4 linked regions of the Homo sapiens genome follow. The protein of the gene in region 2 interacts with the protein of the main gene of each other region in a pairwise test. Each region holds a gene or a part of one and is shown on either strand. Other genes may lie near its edges. The genes, in order: ZC4H2, ZNF76, L3MBTL3 and LIN37.

Region 1 (7,882 bases), on a different chromosome or scaffold from region 2:
CAGTTAAAAAATGAACAAAAGGTTTGAATAAACACTTCACAGAAGAGGATATATGGGTGGCAAATAAACTCATGAAGAGATACTCAACAAGATTGGTCATTAGGAATATGCAAGTTAAAACTACTGTGAGCTATCACATCACACCACTAGGATGGCTATAATGCCTTTTTGAGGCAGACACTAACAAGTATTGTTGAGGATGTAGAGAAACTGGGACCCTCATACACTCCCTCTTGGGATGGAAACTAGGACATCCACTTTCAAAAACACTTGTATCTTAAAAAGTTATACATATACTTACAATATGAAACAGAAATCTCACTCCTGAGAATCTAAGCAGTAGAAATGGAAACATTTTTCCACAAAAAGACTTGTACACAAATGTGCAGAGCAGCATTATTCATAAGAGCCAAAACAGTGGAAATAACTGAAATGCTCCTCAACTTGTGAGTGAACACCCAAAATGTGCGATATCCATGCAATGGGATATTATTTGTCAACAAAAAGGAATGAAATACTGTTACATGTTACAATGTGAATGAATCTCAAAAACAATAAGCTAAGTGACTGAAGGCAGACCCAAAAGGCCACATTTGTATAACTATTTATATGCAGCATCAAGAAAAAGCCACTCTATTTAGACAGAAAATATATTACAGGTTTCCTGGGGCTGTGGATAAGAACAAAGATCAACTGAAACTGAACAAAGAGCTAATTTTGGAATGATGGAAATTTTCTAAAATATTATGGTGATGATTGTACAACTCTTTAAATTTATTAAAACATGCTGAATTGTACACTTGAAATGGATGTTTCCTATGGTATATAAAATATAACTCAAATTATCCTGTAATGACCTCTTACTGCACCCAGAATTAAATCTAAACCTACAACTCCCACTAAACATAACTTCTAAGCATGCTCATGTTTTCCCAGAAAAATAAATGACTTGTCAAAAGGCTTACGTAGAGGGAATGGATTTTTTTAAAGTTTGCTGATTAAGGCAGCCAGGAGAAATGAGAAGGAGCTTAATGGCTTAATAATAAATAAATAAATAAATAATTTGTTGCATTTGAGGTAGATTGCCTTTACTATGGTCTTCAGGATTTGCATCTAATTCCCAGCCTTCCATTCTCTGTCCAGCAATTGAGAAGTTTGAGCTAAGATTAAATCTAAATAAAAGGCCCTTCCTCTCTCTAATCTACAAAGAGTGTCATGCCAGTCACTGCTTAGATGTACTCACAATACCAAATTCCCTCTTTACAAACTTCCATCAATCAAGCAGACTTAAAAATTGTATTAAGCAAGCACCATTTATCCAGAAGTGCGCTGGTTCTTGTGGATGAATGATAAGATCCCTTCCTTCAAATAAAATAACTGATTGAGATCCAATATAGAAAATGGAACAAATCATAACTGTTATGGTTAAAGTGGAAGTGGGACCCCCAGAGTCATTAATCTGTCCTCAAATTCAACCACCACCTGACTCTATCACAGTGGCCCTTTAAAACCCTCCTTAGAATTCCCTGGGCTCGTCAGAACATTATTTCAAAGTCACCCATGAAATCTATCCTCTTTATTTCAGAGGTGAATAAATAAAGGTCCAGGATGGGAAAGGGACTAGCACAAGGCACATAGTCATGGTCCTCTGGGTCCTCTAAAAAGTACAGATTTATGCATGAAGCAACTTGAAATCAGAGTAATTATATACACGAGGGCTTTCTAGACAGTGGCACTATGCCATATTTCTCTCTTTAACCTCCACAACACCTATCATTCTGCTTTGGCCATAAGCGGGGCTCAATCATTACATTTGGAATGAGAAACTACTGAATGGTAGGTAGTAAATCCAGGGGAGTGATTATAGCATCAGTAGCCTCAGAGAAGAAAAGACATTACCATGGGTGGCAAGGATTTCATTCATTTGGTTCATATTTATTAAGAATCTATCTAAGTGACAGGAACTGAAAGCAACCGTCTGTTAAGAAAGGCTTTATTTAATAACAATAGCTATTATATTTGTGGTGCCTACTATGTTCCAGCAACTGTATTAGGCACTTTTTATGCTATCAAAATTTAATCTTCATAAGAACCATATCGGCAGGTATGTTTCACTTTATTTTCACACATGAAGAATTTGAGGCTGAGAGAAGTAAAGTGACTTGCCCAAGAAGACAAATTCAGGAAGTGGAAAATCCAGCGTTGTAAATCTGATCACCTTTCCATCACAACAAGGAACTTTCATCATATGATGGATTTAAAGCCATAAAAACCAGGCCAGTAGGGTGAATTCTTGTCCTGGCTCAGTCATCAATTTTCAGGGTGAAATAGTGCACTTCATGGAATCTCTTGGCACCTTGGAAATTCTACCTGGAAAGTAGGACTCAGTGTAGCCTTGCATGGAATTGTTGGATGCTTCAATGAGATGAAATCTGTGGAATGTTTGGCCCTACAAGTGAGGAAGCCATCCAGATCATTAAAGATGCAATTTTATATATAAAATTTCCTAATGAGATTTTTCCAAGAGGCTAAAGCACAGCTAGTATGACTCGTGAACCACAGGGAAACCACAGGGTTTTCAGGGTACTTTAGGGTTTCTACAGTCACCAGGATGACAGTCTTAGGTAACTTTTGGACCAGTATTCCTGAGCTCCTGTCCTAGTCTGTTTGTGCTTCTATAACACAATACCACAGACTGGGTAATTTGTAAAGAACAAAAATTTATTTCTCCCAGGTCCGAAGGCTAGGAAGTTTAAGATCAATGTGCCAACAGATTTGGTGTCTGGTGAGGGGCTTGGTCTCTCCTTCCAAGATGGCACCTTGTTGCTGCATTTTCAAGAGGGAGTGAATGTTGTGTCTTCATATGGTGGAATCACAGAAGTACAAAAAAGGGTCTAAACTCATTCCAAGTCATTTTCTAAGGCACTAATCCATTCATAATGGCAGAGGCTTCATGACTTAATTACTTCCCGAAAGGTCTCTCCTCTTAATACCATCAAAATGGTAGGATTATGTTTCAACACATGAAATTTGGGGTACATTCAAATCATAGCAGACTGCTAGGCCACAGGTTCTCCAGACAGTCTCCTGAGCCAAGACTATAAAACATTCAGCTGGATACCTTCTTTTCAATGATTTCTTTCTGGCAAATATGGAAGAGGACAGGTGCAAAGAAGGAGAAGTTCTAGGGCCATGGATCATCCATTGCTGGGACAAACTTGGCAGGCTCATCTGTCACCCAGTTTCAGAGGTGACTCAGCCCCAATGCACACTCAAAAAGCAGGGTAGGACAGCTGGGACCTGTAGGCCTTGAAGATGGGAAAATTAGGTGAAAAGATACTGTTTACTGGAGATTGATGGAAAAGTGCTGGTATTTGTTAATAAGTTGAGGGGATGATGAGAAGTGGACAATTCCAGATTATATTGTATAGGTATAACTGGCCAGGTCTTACTAATGCAGTTGTTCTCCACATGTAGTCCCTGCACCACCAGCAGCAGCATTGCCTGGGAACTTGTTAGAAATGTAAATTCTCAGGCCCCACTCCATATCTACTGAATCAGAGACCCTGGAAATGGGGCTCAGCAATCAATGATTTAAAAGCCCTTTAGGTGTAACCTCCTGCATGGTCAAGTATAATAACCACTATGCTAATGGTGTGGATGGAGAGGGTCACATAAAAAGAGGAATAAAGAATGGCTTCCAGATTTCAGCATAGTGAGGCATTTACTGAGATGGGGAAGACTGGGAAATAAAAATGTTTAGGGGTGGGGCTGGAGTTGAGGGCCTGTTTGAGATGCCAGTGATACATGCAAGGGTGTAAGTTAAATGGGCAGTTAGATATGTGAGTCTGGAACTCAAGGGAGAGATCAGAGCTATTGACTTTGATTAGAAGATCCTTCTGATGGGTCTTATTTATCCTAAGTGATGGGCCACCAAAGGATAGCCCAGCCCTGATTATGGCCCAGATTTATGCTCAGTAAATGTCACTGAATGAACACAAAGGAGCTAGTTTTTCCTGCTTACTCCAGTCTGGTGAGAATATTGCCTAAGTACTAAGCATTCTTCCATGTAATATTTATTTGCTCAACTGGAAACAAAGCTACTGTCAGCAAAGTAGATTTCTTATAACAGTTCATTCTGATAACTTTCTTACATCTCAATACCAAATGCCAACACCTTTTCAGTCTCTCCTGTGGCCAGCATTGTTTGGCTTAATTTGCCCATCCACAAGTCCCAGAGGTTCCAGTTGTCCTGTGCCTTGGTCTTGAGTAAGCACTGGTTCTGAGTCAATCCCCAAGCCAGGTAACAGAGGAGCTTACCAAGACTGCCACACCAATGGCGGAAGGAAAGGAAGAAGGGAGGAAGAGAGGAAGAGAGGAAGGGAGGGAGGGAGGGAGGGGGGAAGGAAGGAAGGAAGGGAGGAAGGAAGGGAGGATATCAATTCAAAATTCCATCATTAGATGGGATAACTTGAGTGCTATAATAAATCTCCCTGTGGAGTCTGTGGTTGGGGTATTGTAATTCATTTTGACTGGGGAACTCGAGAAGGTTTTGGAGAAGACGAGGCATTTCATATGGGTCTTCCTTGAAAAATGAGTAGGATTTAGATGCTTGGAATGGGAGAGTGGCATTCTAGAACGAGGAATCTGCAGAGGCAAAGGTCTGGTGGAACGGAAATATATAAAACAGTAAGAACTTCTATATGGCTAAAGGATAGGATTAATAAAAAGCAGTAGCAGATAAGGTCAGAATAGTGGGTATGGGACAGATTTCCGGGGAGGCAGCATGAATGCCATGGAAACACCGATAGGTAAATGTGTGTTCAACAGAGACACAGTAAGAAATGACGTAAGTGAGAAATGAATTTCACCTCATGACACAATACACACATACACATATTTAAAACTAAACAAAACCTTCTCCAAAGTATACCTACTACTTCATATGCAATGTATGTTGATAATTTCCTTTTTATTTTAAAAAAGGTTTTTTAAAAATGCTACTAGTGACCAACTAAATTCTTTTTATGAGCTAATAATGGGACGCAGCCTGTATTTTTCAAAAAGATTGTCATACACAATGAAAAGTTAGTGAAGATGTTTGAGAAATAAAATAACAACCATGCTTTAGGAAGGTAGTTCTCAAGGCAATGTGGATGCCATTGCAGACAGAGGAGAGACTGTAGACAGGGAAGTAATTCTTCAGATGGAAATGGATACTGCATTACAAATATCCATGCCAATTCATAATGAAGGCCTGAAATGGAGCAGTGAACTGGGAGGTGGAGAGTGGGGCAGGTATTGGGTAAGATATTCAGGATAGAAATAGAATTAACTAAGTGATTGCAGGTGAGTCATTAAAGAGAAAGGGGAGTCAACATTGACTTTCAGATTGCCATCTGAGGTAACTGTGCAGAGAATGGTGGTATTAAACCAAAGGTTTAAGGGGAGGAGCTTGATTGCTGTAGGAAGAGACGTAGATATAAAGCTGAGATTTATCTGTGAAACTTCCAGGCGGACAAGCCCAGTAGGCTGTCATATGTATGGGCTAAAGCATGAATGTGGGTGGGGTATAGAGGTTGGAGATTTGGAGGATAATATTTGAAGCCATGGAAGTACAGGAATTTACTCAAAAGAGTGTGTAGAAAGAAAAAAAGAAAAGAAGGACCCAGTCGAGAAACATTCATTTAAGAGTACCTACTTAACTCAACATCTCCTTCCAAAATGGTTTTTCTTTTTTTCAAGTGAGGAAAGCTCTTTGTGTATGGATATGTGTACATCGGGGTGTGAGTGTACGCAATACACATGAATGGATGGCATGTGCATTTTAAGGAAATATTGTTTTGTACTTGGGGAGCTGGTGTAGGGCTCTGGTCCATTTAATGGTGCCTGTACTCACTGTCTCTGTTTTATTACTGCTATCCTCCCTTTCCCTCTTTTCTATCTCCCTTCTTTTGTTCCATTCTTGTCTCTCTTCTTCCACTTATCTACATGCTCCTTCATCACCATTTAAAAGTCCAAGGAAAACATGGGCAAAATAGATTAGTGTAGGATTTGGAGGCTGAGGTTGGGAACATAATGTGGGAGTGTGATTGGGATTGGGAGGAAAGACAGGGGTAGGCGTGTGTTCAGAGTTAGAAGCAGAAAATGGTCTGTGGTGGGAGAATCTGCTTCTGATGTTTTTCCCACTGCAAATTCTGCCATTGGTGTGAGTGCTGAGTATGAATGCATATATTTCTGGGCTCGTGTCTTGATGTGTGTAAGGCTCTTAGCTTGACTTCAATAGGTCATTAGATGATGCTGCTGTCATCATTCCTGCTTCTGTCCAGCAAACATTATTTCTTTAACAGAAATATGCTGCTATGCTTATACTTCAGGAGATTTAGGATTATAGCAGTTGAAGAACTGTGAATAATGGTTAATCAGATAATCAGCATTTGTAAGGGCAGTTAATAACATTGAAATGTGCATGCCATGTGAATAGGAGGATATATTATTTTTTCTTTCCTAGCTGTGTAACCATGGGAAAGTTGCCTAATCTGTCTGATCCTCAATGTCCTTATCCGTAAAGTGGGGGTAATAATTCCTATCCCAGATTTCCTTTGGGAAGACTAAAGAGTAAATGAGCCAGGAGCTTTTAAATTAAAAGGTGCTTGACAAATGTTAGTTCCTTTCTTCAGTTTCTTTGACCCTTTGCTCCTTCCTTATTTCTATCTCTCATACATGTTTATCTGTCCATATGTGAACATCAAGTATATATTTATAGTACTTTCTCCATTTTAAATTCTTAAACCAAGTGGCTTAACCTTTGTATATTACTGTAAAATTGTCAAAAGCAGTTTAATTTAAGTCACTTTTGGAACACACACATTTGGAATTGTTATGTCTTCTTGGTAGATTGACTATTTTTCATTATGTAATATCCATCTCTAGGAATTTTCTTTGCTCTGAAGTCTGTTTTATTTGATATTAAGATGGCCATTCCTGCTTTATTTTGATTAATGTTTGCAAGGTATTTAGACTATTTGTTGTGAACATAATTATTGATACATGAAGGCTAAGTCTGCCTTTTTATTTTTTTTTCTGTTCATTCTCCGTAATTTTAGTTTCTCCATTTTCTTTGCCCTGCCTGCCTGTGGGTGACTGGAGCATTTTTTAAAAATTCATATTGATTTATTTATAATGTTTTGAGTACATTTCTTTGTATAGCATTTTCAGTGTTTTCTCTCAGTAATATATTATGTATACATAATTTATTTAATAGTCTTCTGACATTACCACTTTACATGCTTGAATGAAGTGTAGAAGCATGTCCTCCCCTTTACATCTCTTTACATTTACAATCCCCTTTACATTCCCCAGTTTACAATATAAATGTGTTAAATATTTCCTCTACATATGCTGAGACCACACTAGATAACAGTATAAATTTAGCTTCAATTATCAAAATACAAGAAATTTCAAGAGGAAAGAGAAAGTCTACTGCATTAACCATGCTTTTGCTTACTGTTTATTGTTTCTTTTCTGTTTTCAGAGCTTACTATCATCTTTTTTTAGGGTATATCTAAATTCCTTAGTATTTCTTCATTGGAGAATGTCTTGATTACCCATTCAATACTGAAGGATATTATTATTGGACATAGATTTATGGGTTGTCACTTCTTTTCCTTCAGCACTTACAAAATGCTAGGGCATCGTCAGTTTCTGATGATAAATCTGTCATTCTAATTTTTTTTTTCCTTTGTAGCTTTTGTTTCTCTTCAGCTGTTTTGAAGAAGTTTCCTTTTTCTTTCATTTTCAGAAGGTTGATTACAATGTGTTTTGGAGTGTGTTTCTTTGTGTCAATTATGTTGGTGTTTGCTCCTCTTCTTGAATCTAAATG
Region 2 (7,882 bases):
ACAGTATTTCCTGGGTTGAGAAGATGATCTCAGAGAAAGAACTCTGGTCTTAGGCACCCCTGCCAAATCCCCAACATCAAAGCCTCAAGTCAGTTCTACAACCTCAAAGAGCTCCCAGTTCCTTGGTTCTTATCTTAACTGTATGGGTCTCATGCTTTATCAACCATCCAAAAGTAGCAGGAACTCCCAACAAATGAAGTGATGAAGTGAGATAGTACCAGGGTAACAAGTTGTATCTGGCCTTCTTAGGGATGAACTATTCACCAGAGGGCCAGCTCTAAGGGAATGTCAAATAGAGGCACTAGAAAAGAGGCACTCTGGCTTCCAGGTAATGACAGTATAATGAGCCTGAGACCCCGAATGACCTGTCCAACATCACAAATCCTTCTGATTCTGAACTGGAAGAGAGGAGCCTGAGTACGCCTCATACATTTTTTTTTTTTTTTTTTTTTTTGAGACAGAGTCTCGCTCTGTCGCCCAGGCTGGAGTGCAATGGCATGATCTTAGCTCACCACAACCTCCGCCTCCCAGGTTCAAGCTATTTTCCTGCCTCAGCCTCCCCAGTGGCTGGGACTACAGGCGCCTGCCACCATGCCCGGCAAATTTTTGTATTTTTAGTAGAGATGGGGTTTTACCATGTTTGCCAAGCTGGTCTCGAACTCCTGACCTCAGGTGAACCACCCGCCTCAGCCTCCCAAAGTGCTGGGATTACAGACATGAGCCACCACACCCGGCTGGCCTCATACTTTTGCCAGCAAAAGAGACAATTGCATAGGATTTGTGAGACCATCACATTTCTATATCTTGACTGATAGCTGCCAGGGTAAAAGGCATTTGAAGTTTGTTGGCAGCTTTAGGAAACAGCACTCAAAACAGGTTAGGGCCATCTGTTAAAGACAATGGCTTCAGCTGCACTTGGATTTGTATTGCAGGTGGTTTTTTTTTTTTTTTTCTCTCTTTTTGAGATGAAGTCTTGTTCTATAGCCCAGGCTGGAGAGCAATGGTGCGATCTTGGCTCACTGCAACCTCCGCCTCCTGGGTCCTGGTTCAAGCAATTCTCCTGCACGCCACCATGCCCAGCTAATTTTTGTATTTTTAGTAGAGATGGGGTTTCACCATGTTGGCCAGGCTGGTCTTGAATTCCTGACTTCGTGATCTGCCCATCTCAGCCTCCCAAAGTGCGGATTACAGGTGTGAGCCACTACACCCGGCCAGGTTTCGTTTTTTTTGTTTGTTTGTTTTTTCTTTTTTCACTCTCCAGGACAAAATTTCCCCATTCCATTACGTGGTAGATGTTGACTATGTCTCCTCTAAACTAATTTTGTGGGTGACTAATTTTGTCAATTAGGATGAGCTATATCTTATACTCTTATCTGGTCAAAGAGACTCTCCTCACGATATAAACGTAGACATCTAAATGACACAAGAATAAACACAGCCACAGGGACAGTTTCCAGATGCAGTTAAAGGGTTACACTGCCACGGAGTGTGTTTTCCTTAACACCTGACTCTTTTAGGGGAAAATAACATTCTTACTTTCTGTTACAGTGATTATAATTTAAGTTCCTGGAGAGCATGCCTTTCAGCCTAATTAGCACCTAACAAAGAATGTGCCCACAGATACCAAATGATTAATACTACTAGGTTACATAGCTAACTGAGCTCTTTAGCTCAGATTTGAATCCTGATTCAGTTCTGCTTATTGTAATATCTAAGTTGAACTCCTGAGACCAGATATGAAACTCTTCATCTACCACAGAACTGTGAGCTTCTAAGAGAAGCTCCTGGCAAGGAAGTAAATGTTGAACGAAAGAATGGAGGAGGGAAGGAACTGAAGCCCCCACCACTCCAACCCTTCCCAACCACTCCCAACTCTTCCCTAGTCCAGCTAAGTGGATGACTTTTCCCTCATCGGGATTACCATCTTGCCTCATCTTTGACATGCACGTTCACTGTTTCCACGGAGACCCAGATCAGGAACAAGCTTTCCCTGGCTAATGTCACACTCCAGCCCCATGTTTCGTCTGCACTTGGCAGTGAAGCCACAACAGGGGGTTGTCTGCGGTGCTCCCTGAGGGCACAGATTCGTCTTCTCCATCATCGTATCCTCATGTGACATAGTGCCCACCACATGGCAGGCACTCACTGGGTATTACTTCAGCGAATGAAGGAAGAAATCTTATTGCCAATACCACTACCTGGTGTAGAACTCAGCAGTTTCCAAAATGCTCTCAGATACACATATATTATCATGTTTATTCTAAGCACTTAATTCATCAACTCCCACAATAGGAGGGGCTGAGAACACAACTCATTCCTAGTCTAAAGTGGTCATTTTGGCTGGGTGTGGTGACTCATGCCTGTAATCCCAGCACCTTGGGAGACCGAGGCAGGTGGAGGCTTGAGCCCAGGAGTTCAGGACCAGCCTGGGCAGCATGGTGAAACCCTCTCTACCAAAAATACAAAAATTAGCTAGGCGTGGTGGTGCCCATCTCTGTAGTCCCAGCTACTCAGGAGGCTGACATGGGAGGACTGATTGAGCTGGAGAGGTCACTGCTGCAGTGAGCCTCCATGATTGCGCCACTGCACTCCAGCCTGGGTGACAGAACAAGACCTTGTCAAAGAAACAGATAAGGGGCCGGATGCAGTGGCTCAAGCCTGTAATCCCAGCACTTTGGGAGGCCAAGGCGGGCGGATCACAAAGTCAGGAGATAGAGACCATCCTGGTTAACACGGTGAAACCCCGTCTCTACTAAAAATACAAAAATTAGCCGGGCGCGGTGGTGGGCACCTGTAGTCCCAGCTACTCAGGAGGCTGAGGCAGGAGAATGGCGTGAACCCGGGAGGCAGAGCTTGCAGTGAGCCGAGATGGCGCCACTGCACTTCAGCCTGGGTGACGAGCGAGACTCCGTCTCAAAAAAAAAAAAAAAAAAAAAAGAAATAGACAATAAAATAAAATAAAGCAGTCATTTTGCAGATGAAGAGACAGAGGCCTGCGTTGCCAGAGGAGTCCCAAAGGATCACATAGCTACCTGGTGGCAGAGCAGGGCCTAACACCTGACCACCAGTGTTCTTCCCATACTCCGCTGTCTCTTGCCAGGTGATGGTGTTCTTTTATTTCCTGAGAGTAGACATTTCCTAGGCTCCAAAAGACTTGAATATCCAGCTGCTTACTCAACATCTCGACTTTGATATCCAAAAAACACTTCGAACTTGACATGTTCAAGAGTGAATTCCTTATCTCCTCCTTCTAACAACCTGCCCTCCTTCCAGGCTCCCCAATTTCAGTAGATGGGAATTTTACCATTTTGTTACTTAGGCCAAAAATGTGGGAGCCAGGCAGATCACGAGTTCAGGAGTTTGAGACCAGCCTGGCAAATATGGTGAAACCCCATCTCTACTAAAAATACAAAAATTAGCCGGGTGCGCTGGCATGCACCTGTAGTCCCAGCTACTCAGGAGGCTGAGGCAGAAGAATCACTTGAACCCAGGAGGCGGAGGTTGCAGTGAGCTGAGATCACGCCACTGCACTCCACCGTGGGCGACAGAGCGAGATGTCTTGAAAAAAAAAAAAATTGTAGCCACCCTCAACTGCTATTTCTTTTATATATCACATCCAGTCCATCAGCAAATCCTGTTGGCTCCTTTCCAAATACATCCAGAAGCCAACCACTTCTCACCTTTCCATTGCTTCACCTTGGGTTCAAGCCACCAACTTCTCTTGTTTAGACTATTGTAGTAGCCTCCTAACCAGTTTCTCTCCTTCCATTTTTGCCCCGTTATAGCTTATTCTCAACACAGCAGCCACAATGACCTTTTCAATATGTCAGGCCATGTTATTTATCTGCCTAGAATTCTCTAATGGCTACCATCTCACTCACAACTCACACTACAAGCCAGTGGCCTGTGTGATCTGCCCCCAATTCACCCCCACCGCAACATCTGCCATTTCTTCTCTCACTAATATACTGCAGCCGTATTGGCTGGCTTCCTCATGTTTCTTGAATATATAGGGCACATTCCTGCCTCAGGGCCTTTGTGTTTGCTGTTCTTCCTGACTGGAATAAATTTCCCCTAGATGTATGCTTGACTTACCCCCTAACTTCCTTCAGGTCTTTGCTCAAATGTTACCTTTTTAGTGGGAACCTCTTCAACTACCCTATTTAAAATTTTAACACCCAGAATCCTGGCATTTTCTTCTTCTTCTTCTTCTTTTTTTTTTTTTTTTGAGACAGAGTCTCGCTCTGTCGCCCAGGCTGGAGTGCAGCAGCGTGATCTCAGCTCACTGCAACCTCTGCCTCCTGGGTTGAAGTGATTCTCGTGCCTCAGCCTCCCGAGTAGCTGGGATTACAGGTGCCTGCCACCACGCCTGGCTAATTTTTGTATTTTTAGTAGAGCTGGGGTTTCGCCATGTTGGCCAGGCTGGTCTCAAACTCCTGGCCTCATGTTATCTACCCAACCCAGCCTCCCAAAGTGCTGGGATTACAGGTGTGTGCCACTGCACCTGGCCTACTCCTGGCACTTTCTATCTCCCTTCTCTGCTTAATTTTCTCAATATATATTTTACTTATTTGTTTATTGTCTGTCTCTACCCTGTCCATTCCTCAAACAGTGAGCTCACTGCTCTATTCCCAGTACCTAGAAAAGTACCTGGCACACAGCAGATATTCACCAAATATTTGTGGGATGAATGAATCAGTGAATGAATGAATATATATACCTTTAGGATCTCCCAGTAACTTGAAACCTTTAGGCAAGAAGGGGAAGACCCTAGTAGAGCTCTGGTCTCTCTCCAGCCCTCAGTCCCTCTTTCCTCCTTACTGCCTCACCCTCTTCTCAGGTCCAGTCCAGCCCTATTCCACCAGAAACCATACCTAAGCTGAGAAGCAGTGCAACAGGTGCTTGATGCCAGGATGTTACAATTCCCAGGCCACTAGGTACAGAATTCTGCAGGGTGCTAATTTTTAAATTTAGCATCCTGATATCTCACAAACAGAAGAGGTCAGAGAAAGGTTAGGACTAAATATACTACTTAACCTAGATAACAGTACTGATTCAGAAACAGTAGCTCATTTGCTCTGAGGTGTTTTCCAAGGAACAGTGCTAAATTTGCACTTGTTCACCTAGCTGCCCCTGCCTTTAATCTTTTTATAATGGATTTCCAACATACACAAAAATGGAAAGAATGGTATAATGAACCTCTTGAACCCATTATCCAACTTCAAAAATTACCAACATTTTGCCTCCTTGGTTTCCTCTGTTCCTTAATCGTCTCTGCAACCCACACTAAATATTTCAAACTAGCTGTTTTCTTGAGAACAGATTTATATAAGACAGCCCCTGATGCTGTTACCACTGTATTTGAGCAACTGCGTCAAACAACCTATCTTACCAGAAATACAGTAGAAAAAGAAAAGCACTTACACCCATTCCCCCACCCGAGCAATGACTAAAAAAGGAAGTGTCTAAATTACCGACGTTTAAATCAAGGGACATGCCCATTATCATGTTTGGAGAACTTTGGGGAGGGGTGTTGTGTCCACAAAATGAATGTAGACATGAACTGCTTTTACTTTTGTACACCTGATGCAGAATTTCTGAGTGAGTTAATTTAATCCAACAGGTAAGTACTGACTACCTGCTAAATGTGAGGGAAGAGATGAAGACAGAAGATAAAGAAAACCAGCCAGGTGCAGTGGCTCATGCCTGTAATCCTAGCACTTTGGGAGGCTGAGGCGAGTGGATCACCTGAGGTCAGGAGTTAGAGATCAGTCTGGCCAACATGGTGAAACCCTGTCTCTACTAAAAATACAAAAATTAGCTGGGCATGGTTGCAGGCGCCTGTAACACCAGCTACTTGGGAGGCTGAGGTGTGAGAATCACTTGAACTCAGGAGGAGGAGGTTGCAGTGAGCCAAGACTGCACCACTGCACTCCAGCCTGGGTGACAGAGTAAGACTCCATCTCGAAAAGAAAAGAAAAAAGAAAACCTAGTCTCTGTTCTCACAGAGCTCACAGAGTGGGGTTGAGAAAAGTACACAAATAACTCAAATACAAGGCAGAATAAGTTCTGTGCCCTAAGTAAACAAATCTAAGGCAAGAACTCCTTTTTAAAATCCACCCACAGCAGTTGTAGAACCCAGGGTATACCCTTTCCTCAACTCTAGTTTTAGTTTCTGCTGTATTTATTGCTGCACAGCCAATAAGTACATTATAAGAGACCTGGGAATTTGGTGACCCACAGAATAGACTTTTGGATGTGGATCTTTGATGTCACATTTTGCTACTGACTCTTCAGACTTCAGTGGTTGGGGATTATCAAGTTTTCCCAGGGCTTGGAAAACAATGGGGCTAATTCAGTGCCTGCAGAAGCTGACACCCAAAGCATTCTACTCTGAGGGCATATACAGCAAGCAGCTTCATAACAGGATAGGATAGTGGGAGGGTGTCCAGGAGACACAGCTAGATTGATTCTGAAGGACTTCAAAGGGCTCTCTCCCTGCCCTCTAAAAAACCAAGATCCTTTGGTGATCTATTATCAGAAGTCATCAGAAGTTCCCAGAGAAGAGTGTAGTTCTCTGGATAAACCGAAGAGACTGATGAAGTTTGGTGGAACAGTGCAGCATATGAAGGAAGCAGAGCTGAAAGCAGCAGGGGCATACGCATGGCCCTGGAGATAGATGCACAAGAGAGTGGAGGAAGAAAGGAGCAGACCTGAGATGGAAGGGAGATTTATATTGTAATCAATTATCAAGATTGGTGAGGTGAGGATGGCTGAGGGGACAAATAAGAGGAAGGCAGGAAGAGGAGGCCCTGTGGAAGGGTGAAAGACAATCCGGGTTTGAAAAGGTGAGGGAGGAATCTGAGAGGCAGGATCTCACAGGATACTGGGCAAGGGTATGAGAGGAGAGGCCTTAGAATGGGAGGGTGTGCAAGTTATACAGGATTGCTTCATGCTGGGATGGAAGGAGCCGATTCCATTGAAGCTAGTCACATCAAGAGGTCACTAAATGAAGGACAAATTATATGAAGGTTTCAGGTCACAGAATGTGGCTGAGGATGGCAGAAGGTGGGGTGGTGGGAGTAGAACACTGAGACTAAAAAATAGGATGAAAGGCAACTGGGCTAGATGGTTTTAGAGCATACAGACTTGTGGATTCCTGGGGCTAAGGGACTTAACAAGATGAAAGGATTTGGGGTAAAGTGCCAGTGAGGTGGGAGACACTGTATGGTGAGTGAGTTCACAGGGAAAGGGCTGGAAGCGTCAAAGATTCATAGAACAAGAGATATTTGGGCAAAGGATGAAGAGAGAAGTTGACTGGGTTCAAGACACTACTCCAAAATATGGCAACTTGAGAAAATGGCAGTAGGAAGGTCACTCTCACTTTCTCTGAGGCTCTTCTCCCCTGAAGCAGATCACAAAACCTAGGAAGGATTTTTCTGACTTTCCCCTGAAGCAGGTCATAATACCCTCCTCATAAAGAGGTGCCCTCCCTATACTCAGAGGAAAGAAGCACCCTTATCTGTGAAGACACAGGGACACAGAGAAGAGTCTGAACAAACAGGCCTTGCTAAGTTTCTCCCAGTTTATTACTATTTGATATTACCCTTTTTGTATTTTTCCACAACTATCCACTCTTCATCAGATCTAGTATAAAAATATACAAGTTTAATCATTTCTTTAGGTCTTCATTTCCTTATGAAGGCTCCTGTCACATAAAACTTACATTAAATAAATGTATATAATCTTCTCTTATTAAATCTGTTGTTATAGGGGCCTAAGCCATGAACCTAAGAAGATATTTTCCCTCCCCTACAAGGTGCAGGGGCTTCAGGGGATATGAGATCAAAAGTCATGAACAGCAGGATGAGAAAGTCACCAA
Region 3 (7,882 bases), about 95 Mb from region 2:
TTAGGGAGTCCGAGAGGCTCTATGCTGGCTATCTCGGTCGCGTGGATTTTTGCGCAAGTTTTTAGAAAAACACTGACTCGAGTAGAGAGCATTTCTCCGGAAAGTTTCAAGTGCAGCAAAATAGCGAACGTGCAAAACTGGCCAAGGGGAGACCTCTAGTGGTTGAACGCGTCTTTTAAGTTCGGAAGGCCGAGAGCAAAGTTTGGCCTTTACTCGTAGCTACGTAGTCCGTTCAGACGTGGAAGTAATTAGAGGACCTGAGCGAGCAGCCAGATGTTGTGTGAAAGGATGCTGATCAGAAATTGAAAGTTTAGTAAATCGAAGCAATGAATTCTGAGGACTCAGACCCTGTAACTTCCATCCGACATGAGTTATATGGGAAAGACACTTTGCTTTTATTCAGAGATTTGAGATTGATCGCTCCCTGAATTGGAAACAATTGTTTGCTTTTGCATTTATCGGTGTCTGTACCTCTGATCAATTTTTAATTAACGAGTCTCAGCTGATGACTTTATTTTGAATGTTAAGAAAACTGCTAAGTTGAAATGTGTTTAAAACTTTGAAGAAATGGAAAAGACCTTTAGTTGAGATTTGTCTTTTATATGAGCTGTTCATTTTACTGTCTGATAAGTGTAAGGCAATTTTATATAGTTTCTTAGCTGTATAGTTATGTATAGTCCGAGTAAGTAGTCCCTTTTGGTTCTAAGACTGTAATTTTGTTTCACTGAGTACGAAATTATTTCTGAATACTTGTATAATTTGTGATTTAAAGTCCTTAAATACATGGGCAAAAATTTTATGTAATATCTATTCTTTTTCCAGTGTGTTTTCTGTAAAATATCTTTAATTTTAAAGATAAAAGCAGTGAGGGAAATTAAAGTTGACTCAAATGATCCTTGTAACTTTCACCTGCCTGTCATATACAACAGGAGAGACGTTATTGGGTGAATTTAGGACATGGGAATGATACGAATGATTAAAATCCATTTCAACTCATCTAGAACCAGCTTATTTTATTTTAATTTACCGAGTGGCATGGTGTAAAATTATGCCTAAGTGATTCAGAATGTAAGCTTCTTAACTGGGGATGGTGGATTTGAAGGTTTCTTTTTGATGACAGTGTTTTGATTTTACCTTCCCTCTCTTTAAACCAATGCTAGAACCCTTAGGAGAAATCTTGAGAGTGGACAGCAATTGTGAAGATCGCCAGAGAGTTCTGTGTTTCATCACCGCCGAAAGGTAAGACCCACTTGTTGAAATAAATTGCTTGACATACCTGCAAATGTTAAAAAGCTGCATTTGGAGATCAGGAAGGAGAGTATGAGACTGGGTTGGCAGAAAAACATCATTTTGTGGGGCTGCTTTGAATGCATGAATGTATTGACACTAAATGTAATTGTAGTTTGGATGAAACATTAGGAAGTTAGGAGATTGTCCTGGATAATCTTTGTATTGCCTTACTTACTAGATTCTTAATTAGCATTTTAGCACCTGTTTTCTACTGAAAGTAAATGTTTTATTCTTTGGAGTTGAAAAAGTGGAAAAACTGGAATAAAATGATTGTAAATTAATATAAGTGTTACATTGTTATACAGTGATATGGAAGATTCTGGAACTCTAAATGTCTTGGGGGGCCAGTGGTAAAATTTTGTGAATGAAATTTACATTGGGTGCTTTGGGGGTATTTGTCACATAACTTCTATGGCTTAAATCCAAGATGGGCTGACTTGTGCCAAGTGCCATGTTGCAGGGTTATGAGTGAGTTTCAGTGTGTTAGCTTAGACTTGTCAACTTTTGAACATACTTCCACAGGGAATACAGCTGTTGTCTACTAAGATCTCTTTAGTAATTTTGGAGGGTGTTGGCTTCTTTCCAATACTCCAGGTCCTTCTTTTAGGGCAAAGGTCATTCTCAGGCAGAGGGGACAGCCATCTCTGAAGGTAGAACATTTCAGTACATTTTTGCTACTCCAGTGCTTTCTACTGTTTATACCTTTTTTTTTCTTCCTTTAATCTTCCCCTCTCCTTTTCTGCCTGTTTTCCTGCCCTCTCTGTCTTGAGTAATAAAGGGGTCGCTAAATCTTGTTTGGCAAAAACAAAAGAAAACCAAAATTAGCCTACCTTTTTAGAGCAGAACTAACAACCTTCATTGGGCCAGGTGTAATCTAGAAATCAAAATGACTAATTATTGATATAAAAATGATTAACAGGAGTTTATTGTCATTTGCTGCTTGTGGATCATTTTGAATTGTATAATTAGCAAAATAAGTAGATCTGGTCCATGTGGATATGCAGCAGAGACAATGGGGCAAGAACAGCTATAGGAAGGTCCTGCAGACAACTAGGGTTCAAGAAGAGTAAAATCAGTTTCCTAAGATGGTGAATTTCATGTTTAAATGTGCTGAGTTGAAGACACTGCTTATTTTTCTTTGTCTGCGGAGTCACTGTGTCTGTGGATAGAATGCTAGAATAGGAATCAGAAGACTAAATGTAATAACTAGATATATCACCTTGTATATGTCACTCTACCTCCTTCAGCCTCCATTTCCTCATCTACAGAGCGGGAACAGCAATACTTGCCTTGCATCTTTTGTTAAAAGAATCAAATAAAATCAGATTTTGAGAACCATAAAGAGTTATTCAGATGTATAGTGGTCATATCATTTTACCTTCGTCCAGCTTTATGAAGGGCTGGAGGTAGATTGTCTAAGTCAGAATATAGTGATTTAACACTTGGCTAAAACTTTTAGATTGGTTTCTGATGTGTGTATTGTATGGACTTCTCGGAATATTTCTAGGAGTATATCTTGTCTTGAGAAAAAAGTAGTTTCCCTTGTATACTATTGGCTCTTTGAGGGAAGAGACCATGCTCTAACATGGTGCGGAATACAAAACCGGAAATTTATTTATCCCAAACTAGTCATTTAATAAGTAGAAGGAGTAAATGAAAGAAATACTTTAAAATGATGCCTAATTGTGAAAATGGTAGGGTGATGAAAGTAGAAGGGTTGGTGTGAGGGGAATTAATGTACTGTAATTAATATTTTAGTTGCATGAGTCTGCTGGGAGATGAGGATGAGAAAATAGGTAACTGGAGTAGTAATGATTTAAACTAACTATAGGGGCCAGAACATGAGTCCTCCGAATGACTGAATTTAGGAAATGTCCAAGTAGGGCTTTTCCTCCTTGTTTTCTAGACCTCTTTGGCTGCAATCTAATTATAGCCAACTATGTAAAATCTAGATTAAAAAAATTGTAAGTACTATCTATTATTATTTTTGATTTGATGCTACTGAACCTGACAAAATAAACCCTGACAGGTTTTAGTTTTACTTCATCTCCACTCTTTGGAGATTATCCAATCAATGTTCTAAGAATCCAAAAACCCAATAGGAGTGGAAAAAAGAAGTATATGTCCTGTTTAATTAGTCCCTGAGTAATTGAGAGTTGATTCTTAAAGAATTTTGACTGGGTTGGTAGTTTATTTTTAAGAATTCCATATTTCAGCCAATGCTGTTTATAGTAGTGCAGTTAGGATGGGGAATTTATGAGAGAACTTACTTTATGTGGTGGGTGGGATGTACCGTTGGCATCCCAAGGATGGATAACTTGAGTGATCCCTGCGGTATTGTTTCTACTAGTTACTTAACCAGTTTTTTTCTGAGCTCTTATGGTGTTGAACACTTAAAAGACGAGATCCTTGCTCTTGAGGAGTTCTAGAGATCCTTACTCTGGGACTAGACATAATGAGCTCTTCTAATAATAGTATAACAGTTGCACATGGTACCATTAGGAAAGGATGAGGGCTCTAGCACTCTTTGGAGCTGTTGAACCAGGAAACATGGATTTCTGGGCTAACTGATGCAGGACCATGGCATATCATCCAATACACATGGCACAATATAATGCATTCCTTTTTTAGTGCTTCGCCTTCAGAAATGAGTAAGAAGCCCTTCACCCACAGTCAAGGAATGTCTAGCAAGAGTCTAGCAAGATGGATTGAGGCGATTCTTTCTTTGACCAGTGTGTTCACAAGGTAACTTTCTGGTGAAGATCTACACTATCTTCCACTGTTACCACTTGCCACTATTGAGGGATTTGTTCCTCACAAGGATTTGGGAATGCTTATAGTATAGGTAAAGATAGTGTCTTTAGAGAGAACTATTTATATGTTCATATGGGTGCACATTTATATGTGACATCTTGAAGTTCAGCGGATCCATGGAAGATATATTTTCTAAAGGGCTTCATTATCTAACAGGAATATTCTCAGATTATCTCTTTACTGTATTAAATTATTTCATTGGTGGTTGTGGATGTAAGTCAATAGTGGGAAATGATGAACGGATTTGTATTGACTGTGGCAGCTATGCAGTGGGTGGATGAAAAGAAGCACCAAGAAAGGGTATCCTTGATATATAACTAAGCTTGATTTATGAAGTAAAATTGGGAAAGACCTTTAGAAAATTCCCATTTGGGAGACAAGATAGTTTGGAGGAATGAACAAGGATCTTTGAGAGGAACTTGAGTAAAGTTAAGTTGGGTGATCTTGGATGAGGGAACTTTCCTCATAAACTGTAGTTTCTTTCTGAGTAGACTTGGAATTGATTAGTTGGATGGTGATTATAAGAATGATATGTATATTATATGTAACAGTAAAATGCCTTCTGCATTATTATTCTTTCTCCCATATATACTGTAAATCATTGTTTTGTGTTCCACCAACAGATACTTATTGAACCTCTATTTTGTCTAAATTACTGTTGTGAACTGCTTCACAAAATCAACAATTACAGCAGGGTTGAATGAATGTATGTGTTGGGGCTACAAAGACATCGAGCATCAATCCTTGGGCTCAGTATATTCCTAATCTAGTTGGGGAGATAACCCATACACATACGATGGCAATTAACAAAACAAAGCCATGGTTAAGTGTGGGTGAATGGTAGATAAATGCTGTAGACACTGTGATGGCATCTCTGGATGTGGTGGTAAATGTGTTCCTGTGATAGGACCCGGCAGATGGGGTTGCTCTTTTAAAAACCCTATGAAGTGTTGATATACAATGTTAAGTGCAATTGTATATCGAGTGCCTTCTGAAGATCAAGCATTAAGCTAGATGCTTTATATTTATTTATTCATCCAAAAAATACTTTGAGTGCTTTCTGTATGCCCAGGTACTGTTCTAGGCACTGACTATTACCTCTCATACTTTCACTAACCTTGAGCACTGGGTATTATTTTTTGTCTTTTAGAGCAAACTGGTGCTCAGAGTTACTTAGTAACTTGTTCATATCATGCAGTTTGAAAGGGGTGGAATCAGGGAAAATGATACTGGCATATGATTGATGTGTCTTTAGGTTTTTGATTTTCAAAATAGTAACACATAGAATATTTTAAAAACAACACATTTCCAGATTAAGGTATGTGCTCTTTTACATTGGTTTACTAAGATGAGCAATAATGAACAGGTATAAGAAAAATAGATGGGAAGAAAAACTGGCTTTACTTTCTTCTTTTTTTTTTCTTTTTAAAACCAAGAATTGAGAAAAGACCAATTATTGAATTATTCTGAAAAGAACACCTTGGTCTAGCCCATGGCCTTGAAATGATCACAAACTGTTGATAAAACATTACTCAGAATAGGCTTGGGAATCACTGGGCTTACTTATATAAAGATTTCATTTGTTCTCTATAGGAAGAGACCCAATAAGGTAGTAGGACTAGTTATGAAAAATATATATATAAAGCATCAATCAATGAAAGAATGGGACCTGCATCTACCAAGGCAGGCTCAGTAGGTTATGAAATTTACTCTAAAGCCAGGATTGTAAAAGGAAAGAAGAAAATTAAGAGAGACAATGGTGGGGAGAAAATGGAGGGGTGGTGTGGTAGAAATGTGTCCTAGAATCAAAGTAAAAGATGAAAACAGGGAATATGACTAAGATCCTGAGCAAGAGTGCTATAATTACTGGTGTTATACACTGTAACCAAAAGAGTATGTCCCATGTTTGCAAAATGAGGTGAAGAGTCTATTTTGACTCATCGGGTGGTTTTGTATTGCAATGGGAATTATATCTCTCTGTTATATGAGTTACGGTGGATCAGGCAGTTCTTCAGTTTGACTTAGAAGGATGCCATTGTAGGCATTGATTACAAGGTAATGGGCTGTTTCTCCTTTGTTGAAGTTCTATTTAAAACATTTTTTGAGCGTATACTATGTACCAGACCTTTTAAAGGCTGGACCATAGCTTTATATTACATAAATTTTGTGGAATTAAGCTAATTTAGTTACTAGAACATTTTGGGTATGATTGCTTAGGTACCAAAATCAGTTGATTATTTTTCTCCATCCATTACACTGTTGAACCCTGAATAGTGAATTGAAATTCCTAGGTGGTCAATCTGGTCTGGTTGTTAAATGATCTTAGTAATTCACCGTATTGGTTTGTGGTCTAATTGGGTGGACTTGAGGCTTAGCTGTTCAGTCTATTGATAAGGAGGTTGGCTACAAATGGTTATCAAGATAAGCCTGTAGACTTCTGTGAAAGAAAAATCTAGCCAAATCTAATTCATTACATGCAAAAGAGAAATCAAGTGTAAATCTTAGCTTTATGTTCTATAAAAATATGAAGCAAAATAAGAAAAAAGATACTACTTTTAGCATTAAAAATTATGAAGTAAAATAAAAAAGAACAAGAGAGTACTTTTAGTTTTTCTTTTAAAATTTTAGTTCATGCATATTTAGCATATGCATAGAAATATCTGTGTCAGGTTCTTGTTCTTTTTATGGCCCTTGAATCCCTCTAATGGGTGTAAAATTTCTATTATTACCCTTCTAGTATAGTATGTTGATGATATGCTAGCACTTTAAAAAATATGTCTGACTCAAATTGAGGTATAGTCTGCACGTTGAACATGAATTTAAAATAAAAGCATTTAATGAGAGTCTATTAAATATGCCATAGGCCCATTAATGTCAGTTTGTGATTTCACTTTCTGTGTACCTTTTTTTTTTTTTTTCTTGAAAGGCATTTTTCATTTTCTGTTCCTTCTTTAGAGGAAGTAAGTAGGTTAGGCCACAGAATCTCAAATAATTCATCCTTCTTACAGTAACACAGAAGGGCAGGAAGTTGAGATTTTGTAAAGGTTACCTTTGGTGACTACCCTTTCTTTGCACATGATCTCCATGGCAGACAAGGTAGCAAATCAGAGAGACCATTGCAACATTATAAATAGGATCATTCACATTAAAATATGACTAGCTGATAAAGGGACAGTGTTTTTGAGAAAATATCAATAAGATGGAACCGCTGTAATGACTGATTTCATGTTTAAAGGCAGCATGGATTAGTTCACACTCAGGTGTCTCCTCTGCAGGGATGGATGAGAACAGAAGACCCAACTTCTCAAGGATTTGTTCTTGATGCTGCTAAGATTTCAGTTCTCACATTGAAATAATGATCTAGAGTTTTTCCTGCCTAAAATCTATGAACTTAGGTCCTTAGGACAGATTTCACATCTCTCCACAACAGACCTTAATTCCAATATATGTGTGATTCAGAGTACTTATCAGGCAGGATGAGTAGCATATCAAAGGTGGTCTCTGTCATGCTTGATTTGAAAGGAATATTTTTCTTCATAGCAATGTGTGTTTGTTGAGAGATGCTTCAAGTGTGAGTTTAGATTTTCTCTTATCCTTATTGAATAAGTCTGTTTAAGAGGTTTGAATTTAACTTCTTTTGATGTGTTCTCCACTGACACTTATATAAGGAGAGTTTCTTGGAGTGGTGATGTTATGCTTCTGCCAAAGAGGTAAACAAATACTTAGCAGCCTAGTTGTTAGAATTTTCACTGGAGAATATGAGCTAGATGGACAGATG
Region 4 (8,194 bases), on a different chromosome or scaffold from region 2:
CTGGGTCCCCGCCCATAGAGCTGCCTCTGGAGGTTCTGGGAAATGGGCCGCAGATGCATGAAGTTGCAGAAGCCACCTCGGGTACATTCCCTGCATAGAGGGTAGAGAGATGGAGGAAGCCATTGTCACTGACAGCCCCTACCACGCATTCAAAGTCTGGGATTCCAAGTGCCCATCCCACCCTTGAACTACCATACCCCATCTCATACTGGCGACAGCATGACTCCCGGAAGTCAGTGACAGGAGACAGCTCACCGTGCACAGCCTGCCCGTTGAACCAGCGGTTACTGAGTTCAGCCACGGCCCGCTCTCCATCCTCCTCCCTCCGGAACTGCAGGAAATGTCAGTCAGGGTCAGCAGGAGAACTCAGAGATCTTCAGGGGACTCACTACCCGCTCTGGGGCTGGACTGGATTTAGTGATGAAATTCAAGCTGAGAGCCTACAGTGGCCACCATCAGGCATTGAAACGCCTCCACTTCTGGGCCCTAAGTGGGGGGCAGCAAGCACCTTGACATAGACGTTGCCCACGAGGTGGTCCCCAAGGTTGTCGCACACATTCATCTCTTCAATCTCCCCATACTTCTCCTGCAGTTCTGTGAACACCTCCTGTGGAAGACGGGGAGGAACTCAGCTGAGCTCCCACAAGAAACCCCATCTGCCCCTACCAACCCTCACCTCGAAGAAGCTATCATAGTGCTCCTGCACCTCCACGTCACTCACATGACCTGGGGTGGGGGCGGGCAGGGTGGAATCAGAGTGTAGCCTACTGGGGGCTGTTCACCTTGCCCCCAGGCCTGGTCCCTTACTCACAGTGTGATCCGTCTGCAGTTTGGGCTGTGTTCTGTGGATTCCGGTACAGGTTGAGCAGCACTATGGTCTGCACAGAATTTAAAAGGGGCGGGGCCTGAGCTCAGAGGGCAGGGCTGCATGAACAGAGAGTGAGGCATGAAGGTTGGGGGTGGAACCTTACACCCCAGCCTAAGCATCATGAGTGCATCGGCGATCCTTTGCCCCTAAGAAACCAGAAAAGGGATGGAGGGGACTGGCAAGGATGAACAGCGGGATGGAAGGGACTGGCAAAGATGAACAGCCGCCGTGTGTAGCCTGTACGCATGGGGGCGCGACCAAGTTCCCGGGAAAACGGCACGAAGACCGGTGGGAGGAGCCTGCAGAAAGGTCCAATGAGAAAAAAAGCCGGGCGGTGGGGAGGGACTCAGGAACCCGGAATAGGCGGGACATGGTGACGACGGCCCCAGAAGGGGAAGGGCCAGGGAGCCGTTAACCCCCGAGGCTCCGTGCCGGGTCTCACCTGGCTGAATGTCGGCTTGTTGTGAAGCCGGGAGCACCGGTCCCCGTGCCGGCAGACCCCGATCTTAAAGTAAAAAGAGCAGTTAACCCTGGAAAAGGTGCAAAGACAAAGGTGAACCGAGGGCCGGGGAAGCTGGGCACCCCAGAAACACCGCCCCACCACCCAGGACCCCAGTACCCCGGCCCCGACCCCCCGAGAGTCCACTCCCAGCGCCCGTTCTCACTTGTCCTTCTCAGTCCCGAATATCGAAGCTAAATATTCAGCCATTTTTACCCAAGCCCTCCAGGTCTGGCTGCTCTTACGTCACTTCCGTTGCTTAGGAGCACTGGGAAGTGTAGTTCGTTGCCCTCTCCAGGCGCTTACCAAGCGCTCGGAAACGCCCCAGGGCGCTTGCGCGTGGGAGGCGCGCGCCCTCCCCATAGACTCCCCGGTAGGAGTTCTTTTAACAGCGCATGCGTGCAGTGTTGCCTCGCCCAAAGAAGACTACAATCTCCAGGGAAACCTGGGGCGTCTCGCGCAAACGTCCATAACTGAAAGTAGCTAAGGCACCCCAGCCGGAGGAAGTGAGCTCTCCTGGTGAGTTGGGGGTCGTTTCGCCCACCCTAGTAAATATAAAGAGCTCTTTAATCCAGCCAGCTTACTAGTGGGGGTGGGGATGCCCTGCTTTCAGCAAACCGACCTTTACATTTATCTCTGATTTGTTCTAATAGGGGCGTGGTTGTTCGTGATCCTTGCATCTGTTACTTAGGGTCAAGGCTTGGGTCTTGCCCCGCAGACCCTTGGGACGACCCGGCCCCAGCGCAGCTATGAACCTGGAGCGAGTGTCCAATGAGGAGAAATTGAACCTGTGCCGGAAGTACTACCTGGGTAAGGCAGATCGCTAGGGTCCCAGGAGAAGAGAGGGGACTGGACTAGAGCACCCGAGGGAAGAGGGCCTCGGGGCCTGGATTCTTAAGTCTAAGAGATGAAGGACCTGCGAACGCCGACTCCTGGATTTGAGTGGGGAGGGCCTGGGTCCTGAGGAATGAGGAAGCTGGGGCCTCAATTTCTGGATCCCAAGAGAGGAGGGGGATTGAGGGCCTGGACTCTTGGGTCCTGTGAAAGAGATGGTTGAGGAATCAGATTCCTGGATCCCAAAGAGGAGCCAGATTCCTGAGTCCCTGACAACAGAAATCTCCATTTGAACTTGGGTGTGGGAGAGTTTCTTCCAAATAGATCTCGGTGGGAGTTGGAGAAGATCTTCATTGCCTTATGAGGTTTTGGGGTTTGTTTGTTTGTTTTTCTTTCTCCCTAGGGGGGTTTGCTTTCCTGCCTTTTCTCTGGTTGGTCAACATCTTCTGGTTCTTCCGAGAGGCCTTCCTTGTCCCAGCCTACACAGAACAGAGCCAAATCAAAGGCTGTGAGTCTAGAGCACAGAGGAGGGAGGCCAGTGGCAGGGGAGAGGGGGAAGCGGGGAATCTTGGTGGGAAGGGACAATGGAGGATCCAAAATGTTGGGGCTCTGGGTGAGAAGGGAAGGCTGGTCTAGGGAAGTCTGGAGAGCAGCCGGAGGCCAACCCTTCCAGCTTCTGTTTCCCATGACAGATGTCTGGCGCTCAGCTGTGGGCTTCCTCTTCTGGGTGATAGTGCTCACCTCCTGGATCACCATCTTCCAGATCTACCGGCCCCGCTGGGGTGCCCTTGGGGACTACCTCTCCTTCACCATACCCCTGGGCACCCCCTGACAACTTCTGCACATACTGGGGCCCTGCTTATTCTCCCAGGACAGGCTCCTTAAAGCAGAGGAGCCTGTCCTGGGAGCCCCTTCTCAAACTCCTAAGACTTGTTTTCATGTCCCACGTTCTCTGCTGACATCCCCCAATAAAGGACCCTAACTTTCGATACTGACTTCCTGGGATCTTTTAGAGGTTGAGGCATAAATGATTATTAATATTTAAAAACATCTGTTGAGAGCTTTGTACGAGGCTTAGTATTTAGACATGATGTACATTTTTTACAGTGCATACTACTCATAATCTTCTGAACTAGGAACTTTCCTGCTCAGGAAACTATTAGATGAGAAACTAAGAAAGGAATAGTGCTTCCATTTCTTTTTCTTTTTTCTTTTTTTTTTTTTTTTTTGAGACAGAGTCTTGCTCTGTCAGCCAGGCTGGAGTGCAGTGGTAGGATCGGCCTAGTGCTTCCATTTCTAGGGGCTGTTATCCTGTACTGGTAGTCGTGAATTCAAAAATATAACTTTCCTACTGTGGGCTGCAGTATTCTCATCAGAAGTGTAGATCACGATGCTACTTCCTGGGATTTATCTGGACCAAGACGTGTGACAAATGGAAGTTTCCCGTTTTCTGAAGGAAGTGTTGTCTGCAAAAATAAAAATAGTCAAGAGCTTTCTCAGAGAATCCTTCCTTGACCATCCATCTTATTTAAAATTCAATCACCACCTTGATATTCCTATGTCCCTTTCAGGCTACACTTTTTTTGTGGGTTTTTTTTTTGGGGGGGGAGAGGGGTTTGTTGTTGTTGTCTGTTTGTTTTTCTAGATGGAGTCTTGCTCTGTCACCCAGGCTGGAGTGCAGAGGTCCGATCTCGGCTCACTGCAACCTCCGCCTCCCGGGTTCAAGCGATTCTCCTGCCTCAAACTCTCGAATAGCTGGGATTACAGGCGCATGCCACCATGCCCGGCTAATTTTTGTATTTTTAGTAAAGACTGGGTTTCACCATGTTGGCCAGGCTGGTCTCGAACTCCTGGTCACAGGTGATCTGCCTGCCTAGGCCTCCCAAAGAGCTGGGATTTACAGGCGTGAGCCACCATGCCCCGCCCAGATCATATTCTTTCTCCTATTACATTTCACTTAAAATTTACTTGTTTACTGTTTATCTTCCCTCCTTTAAAAGATAAGCTCCATTAGCGCAGGGATTTTTGTCTATTCTGTTCCTCAAGGTGTCTCCAATGCCTAGAAGAGTGCCCGACACACTAATAAATATTTGCAAAATGAATGAAGTTGTACCTGCAAAGAGATTAACAGATACCTGGCACCTAGCGAGTGCTCAGTGAGAGGGAACCCAACGTTATTTTACATTAGTCTTCCTCTTAGGGATGAAGGGACCCCAACGGTTGGTTAAATCCGGTAAAGAGCTAACTTGGTGTTGCTCAACCCTTCTCACACTACAAGTCCCGGGAAGCCTCGCGATGCCCTAATCCTTTGTTTCCCACCGTGCCCCGCGCGGCGCAGGCGCTGTTACTCAGGGTGAGTCTGGGAAGCTGGAACTACACCTCCCAGGAAGCTAGGGGGTAGATGGTTTGTTTCCGGAAGCAAAGCCCCAGGTGGGTGGGACCTAAAGCTGGGAGACTACGGAGGCAGCTCTCAATTGGTCAGGATGCGAGATTGACGGCTGCAATAACTAATAGGAACAAGCTACTGCCGAAGGGGCCCGCCCACAGAAGGGTGGTGGCCACGGTCCAGGCTGGACACAACCAAAGGCGGAGGACCCGTGGCCCACGAAGCTCATCTTTGAACTGTCCCCGCCTTCTCCCGCCTTGACTTGTGACCCTAGGCCCTTTGGGGCGCCTCTGACCCAGCTAGCCAGATCCCGGACCCAAACCATGTTCCCTGTGAAGGTGAAAGTGGAGAAATCAGGTGAGGACCCTGACGTCGGGGGCCTGTCGGGACCATCGGGTTGACAGGGTGTGGAGTCCCGGTGGAAGGGAGTATCGCGGAAAGGGGACTGCACGACTTTTCCCTGAAGCCCACCTGACAATCGCTGTATCAGGCAGCGAGCGTTGCCTGCCACCTTCACACCCTCCCGGTGTGCGCTTGAAGTCGCTTTGAGATTGAATGGGGTGGCTCGGGCAATGACGTGCGTGGTAGGACATGGGGAATCCTGAGCCGGTAACTCTGAGAAGGGCCCTTTTCTTTCCTCTTTTTTTTAATTTAAATTTTTAAAATATTTAAATAGAGACGGAGTATCGCTATATTGCCCAGGCTGGTCTCGAACTCCTGGTCTCAAGCGATCCTCCCGCCTTAGCCTCCCAAAGTGCTGAGATTACAGGCGTGAGTCCCCGCGCCCAGCCGAGAAGTTCTCTTTTCTTGGCTTCCCCTCAGTTTCCCCATTTCCAGCAGTGATCAGAGTCACACATCTTGCTGTGAGCCTGAAGTACAGGCACTCTTAATCCTCACAGTCACTATATTCCAGTAATCCTAGAAAATAGGAACTGTGGTCAATGGGTGAAGCTTAGAAAGAGGAGAGAATTTTGGGTTGGGGCGGAGCTGACCGGATCCCAGGCCTGGCATGGTAAGGGCAGTGGGAGGGGTGCAGAATTTAGACAGAAAGATAATAGTAAAATGATGTAGGATGTCCCATGGCAAAAGTGTTATTAAAACAAAGTGGGAGGCTGGGTGCGGTGGCTCACACCTGTAATCCCAACACTTTGGGAGGCCGAGGCTGGCAGATCACTTGAGGTCAGGAGTTTGAGACCAGCCTGGGCAACATAGCGAAACGCTGTCTCTATAAAAAATACAAAAAAAAAAAAAAAATTAGCCAGGTGTGGTGGCACAAGCCTGTAGTCCCAGCTACTCAGGAGGCTGAGGCAGGAGGATCGCTGGAGCCGGGGAGGCGGAGGTTGCAGTGAGCTGAGATCACACCACTGCACTCCAGCCTGGGTGATAGATTGAGACCCTGTCTCAAAAAAAAAAAAAAAGAAAGGAAAAGAAAAGAAAGAAAGAAAAGAGAAGTGGGTGTGACCACAAATGATGGTGAGGGAAGGTGTACACCTGTGAGTGCCAGGCTGAGGAGTGCAGACTCCACCCCTGGGTGCTGTGGAGTCATGGAAGTTTCCAAGCAAGGGAAGATCAGGGTCAGGTTTGTTATTTTTCAGGAAGATTCCCCTGGCTGCCTTGTGGAGGGTGTATCAGAAGGGGGACACTGAGGCAGGGAGCCAAGGGGGAGCAAAGGACAGGACCAGGATGGGTAGAGTAGGGAGGAGGTGGGTGGGAGAGACACTCGGGAGGCCTAGTGGACAGGCCATGGGGTTGGTGGGCTGGGTAGGGGAGGGAGAGGGGTATCCATGGTGAGGTACAGGGAGGGACTTGGGGACAGTGAGGCGACCCTTGAGAGGGAGGCTTCAGGCCCAAGTCGGGGGTTCAGGAGAGAGGCTGGGCCTGAGGAGAGTTGTGGACGTGATCCGTACCCTCTGCATCTGCCCAAGGCTTTGCTGCAATCTCAGCTACTCCCTTCCCCACCCTCACTCTGTCTCTCCTCTGAGCTATGTTTGAATCCCTGTGTCTCCTGGGCTTCTCAGGAAGTCCCTGGACTGGTCAGGCAAGTTCCCAGGTGTCCCCTCCAGGCTCTGAGCACTAGAGCCAGAGCTCCCACCAGTCAGAAAGGCAGAGCAAACACCTCTCAAAGGTAGGAGGACAGCGTAACATCATCACTTCCTCAAGTTCTGTGATGACGGGAGGCAGCCACAGGCTAACTGGGCAGGAAGGTGGGCCTAGATCTCATTTCCCGAGGGGGAAAAAAAAGCCCAAACAGGATGTTTTAGGTGAAATCTCCCAATTTTGGCTGGGTGCGGTGGCTTCTGCCTGTAATCCAGCACTTTGGGAGGCTGAGGCAGGTGGATCATGAGGTCAGGAGTTTGAGATCAGCCTGGTCAATATGGTGAAACCCTGTCTGTACTAAAAATAGAAAAAATTAGTTGACCATGGTGGCACGCGCCTGTAGTCCCAGTTCTTTGGGAGGCTGAGGCAGGAGAATCACTTGTACTCAGGAGGCAGAGGTTGCAGTGAGCCGAGATCACGCCACTGCACTCCAGCCTGGGAGACAGAGCAAGACTCCGTCTCAAAAAAAAGAAAAGAAAGAAATCTCCCAATTTTTAAATGTCAGCTCATTCAGATTGAATTCAGATTTAAAATTATACCACTGTTGGCCGGGCATGGTGGCTCACGCCTGTAAGCACTTTGGGAGCCTGAGGCCAGCAGATCACTGAGGTCAGGAGTTTGAGACCAGCCTGGTCAACGTGGTAAGACCCCATCTCTACTAAAAATACAAAAATTAGCCAGGCGTGGTGGCGGGCGCCTGTAATCCCAGCTATTTGGGAGGCTGAGGCAGGAGAATCACTTGAACCTGGGAGGTGGAGGTTGCAGTGAGCCAAGATTATGCCACTGCATTCCAGCCTGGGTGACAGAGCAAGACTCCGTCTCACAAAACAGAAATACATTAATTAATTAAAATAAAATTATACCACTGCCTCAACCAGATTCTGCACTCAGGTTGAGCCTCTGTCTCATAACTTCAGCTTTGGAACCAGACAGCCTGGGTTCAAATCATCAGCTCTGCAATTTCTTTGCTGTGTGCCTTTGAGCACGTGGCCTAACATCTCTGTGCCTCAGTTTCATCATCTTTAAAATAGGAATAAAAATCATATCTATCTGAGCTGGGCTCTATGGCATGTGCCTATAGCCCCAGCTACTTGGGAGGCTGAGACAGCAGGACCGCTTGAGCCCAGGAGTTCAAAACCGGACAACATCGTGATATCCTTTTTCAAGAAAAAAAAAAATCACATCTACCTCTAAGGGTTATTGTGATAATTCAGTGGGTTATTATTTGTAATATATAGCATATTTAAACCTTGCCACTGGGACAGGCACAGTGGCTCACACCTGTAATCCCAGCACTTTGGGAAGCCGAGATGGCTCACCTGAATCTAGGAGTTCAAGACCAGCTTGGTCAATATCATTAAGACTCCATCTCTATACAATTTTTTTGTAATAAATTTATATTATATTAAAACACATTTTTTTAAAACCCAAAAGGCTCATAAGGTAAGGTGATTGGCCTTACCTCCTGTCACAGAGCAATCACGTGGGACAGCTCTGGAACTCAGAGCTC

What was found.
Region 1: the proteins of ZNF76 (region 2) and ZC4H2 interact in binary tests that used the Homo sapiens proteins (3 or more experiments, as listed by UniProt).
Region 3: the proteins of ZNF76 (region 2) and L3MBTL3 interact in binary tests that used the Homo sapiens proteins (3 or more experiments, as listed by UniProt).
Region 4: the proteins of ZNF76 (region 2) and LIN37 interact in binary tests that used the Homo sapiens proteins (3 or more experiments, as listed by UniProt).

What each region holds. Positions count from the first base shown.
Region 1 is NC_000023.11:64,966,119-64,974,000, forward strand, and holds part of ZC4H2 (zinc finger C4H2 domain-containing protein), read right to left. Parts: intron 1-7,882. UniProt on the Homo sapiens protein: Plays a role in interneurons differentiation. Involved in neuronal development and in neuromuscular junction formation.
Region 2 is NC_000006.12:35,261,853-35,269,734, reverse strand, and holds part of ZNF76 (zinc finger protein 76), read right to left. Parts: intron 1-7,882. UniProt on the Homo sapiens protein: May be involved in transcriptional regulation.
Region 3 is NC_000006.12:130,021,067-130,028,948, forward strand, and holds part of L3MBTL3 (lethal(3)malignant brain tumor-like protein 3), read left to right. Parts: exon of another isoform or gene 1-1,068; intron 1,069-1,160; 5' UTR 1,161-1,239; intron 1,240-7,882. UniProt on the Homo sapiens protein: Is a negative regulator of Notch target genes expression, required for RBPJ-mediated transcriptional repression. It recruits KDM1A to Notch-responsive elements and promotes KDM1A-mediated H3K4me demethylation.
Region 4 is NC_000019.10:35,743,815-35,752,008, forward strand, and holds the start of LIN37 (protein lin-37 homolog), read left to right. Parts: upstream 1-4,761; 5' UTR 4,762-4,910; coding exon 4,911-4,944; intron 4,945-4,999; exon of another isoform or gene 5,000-5,196; intron 5,197-8,194. Other genes in the region: U2AF1L4 (splicing factor U2AF 26 kDa subunit), read right to left, coding at 1-90, 256-331, 509-607, 1,311-1,398, 1,534-1,577; PSENEN (gamma-secretase subunit PEN-2), read left to right, coding at 2,117-2,177, 2,605-2,709, 2,894-3,033.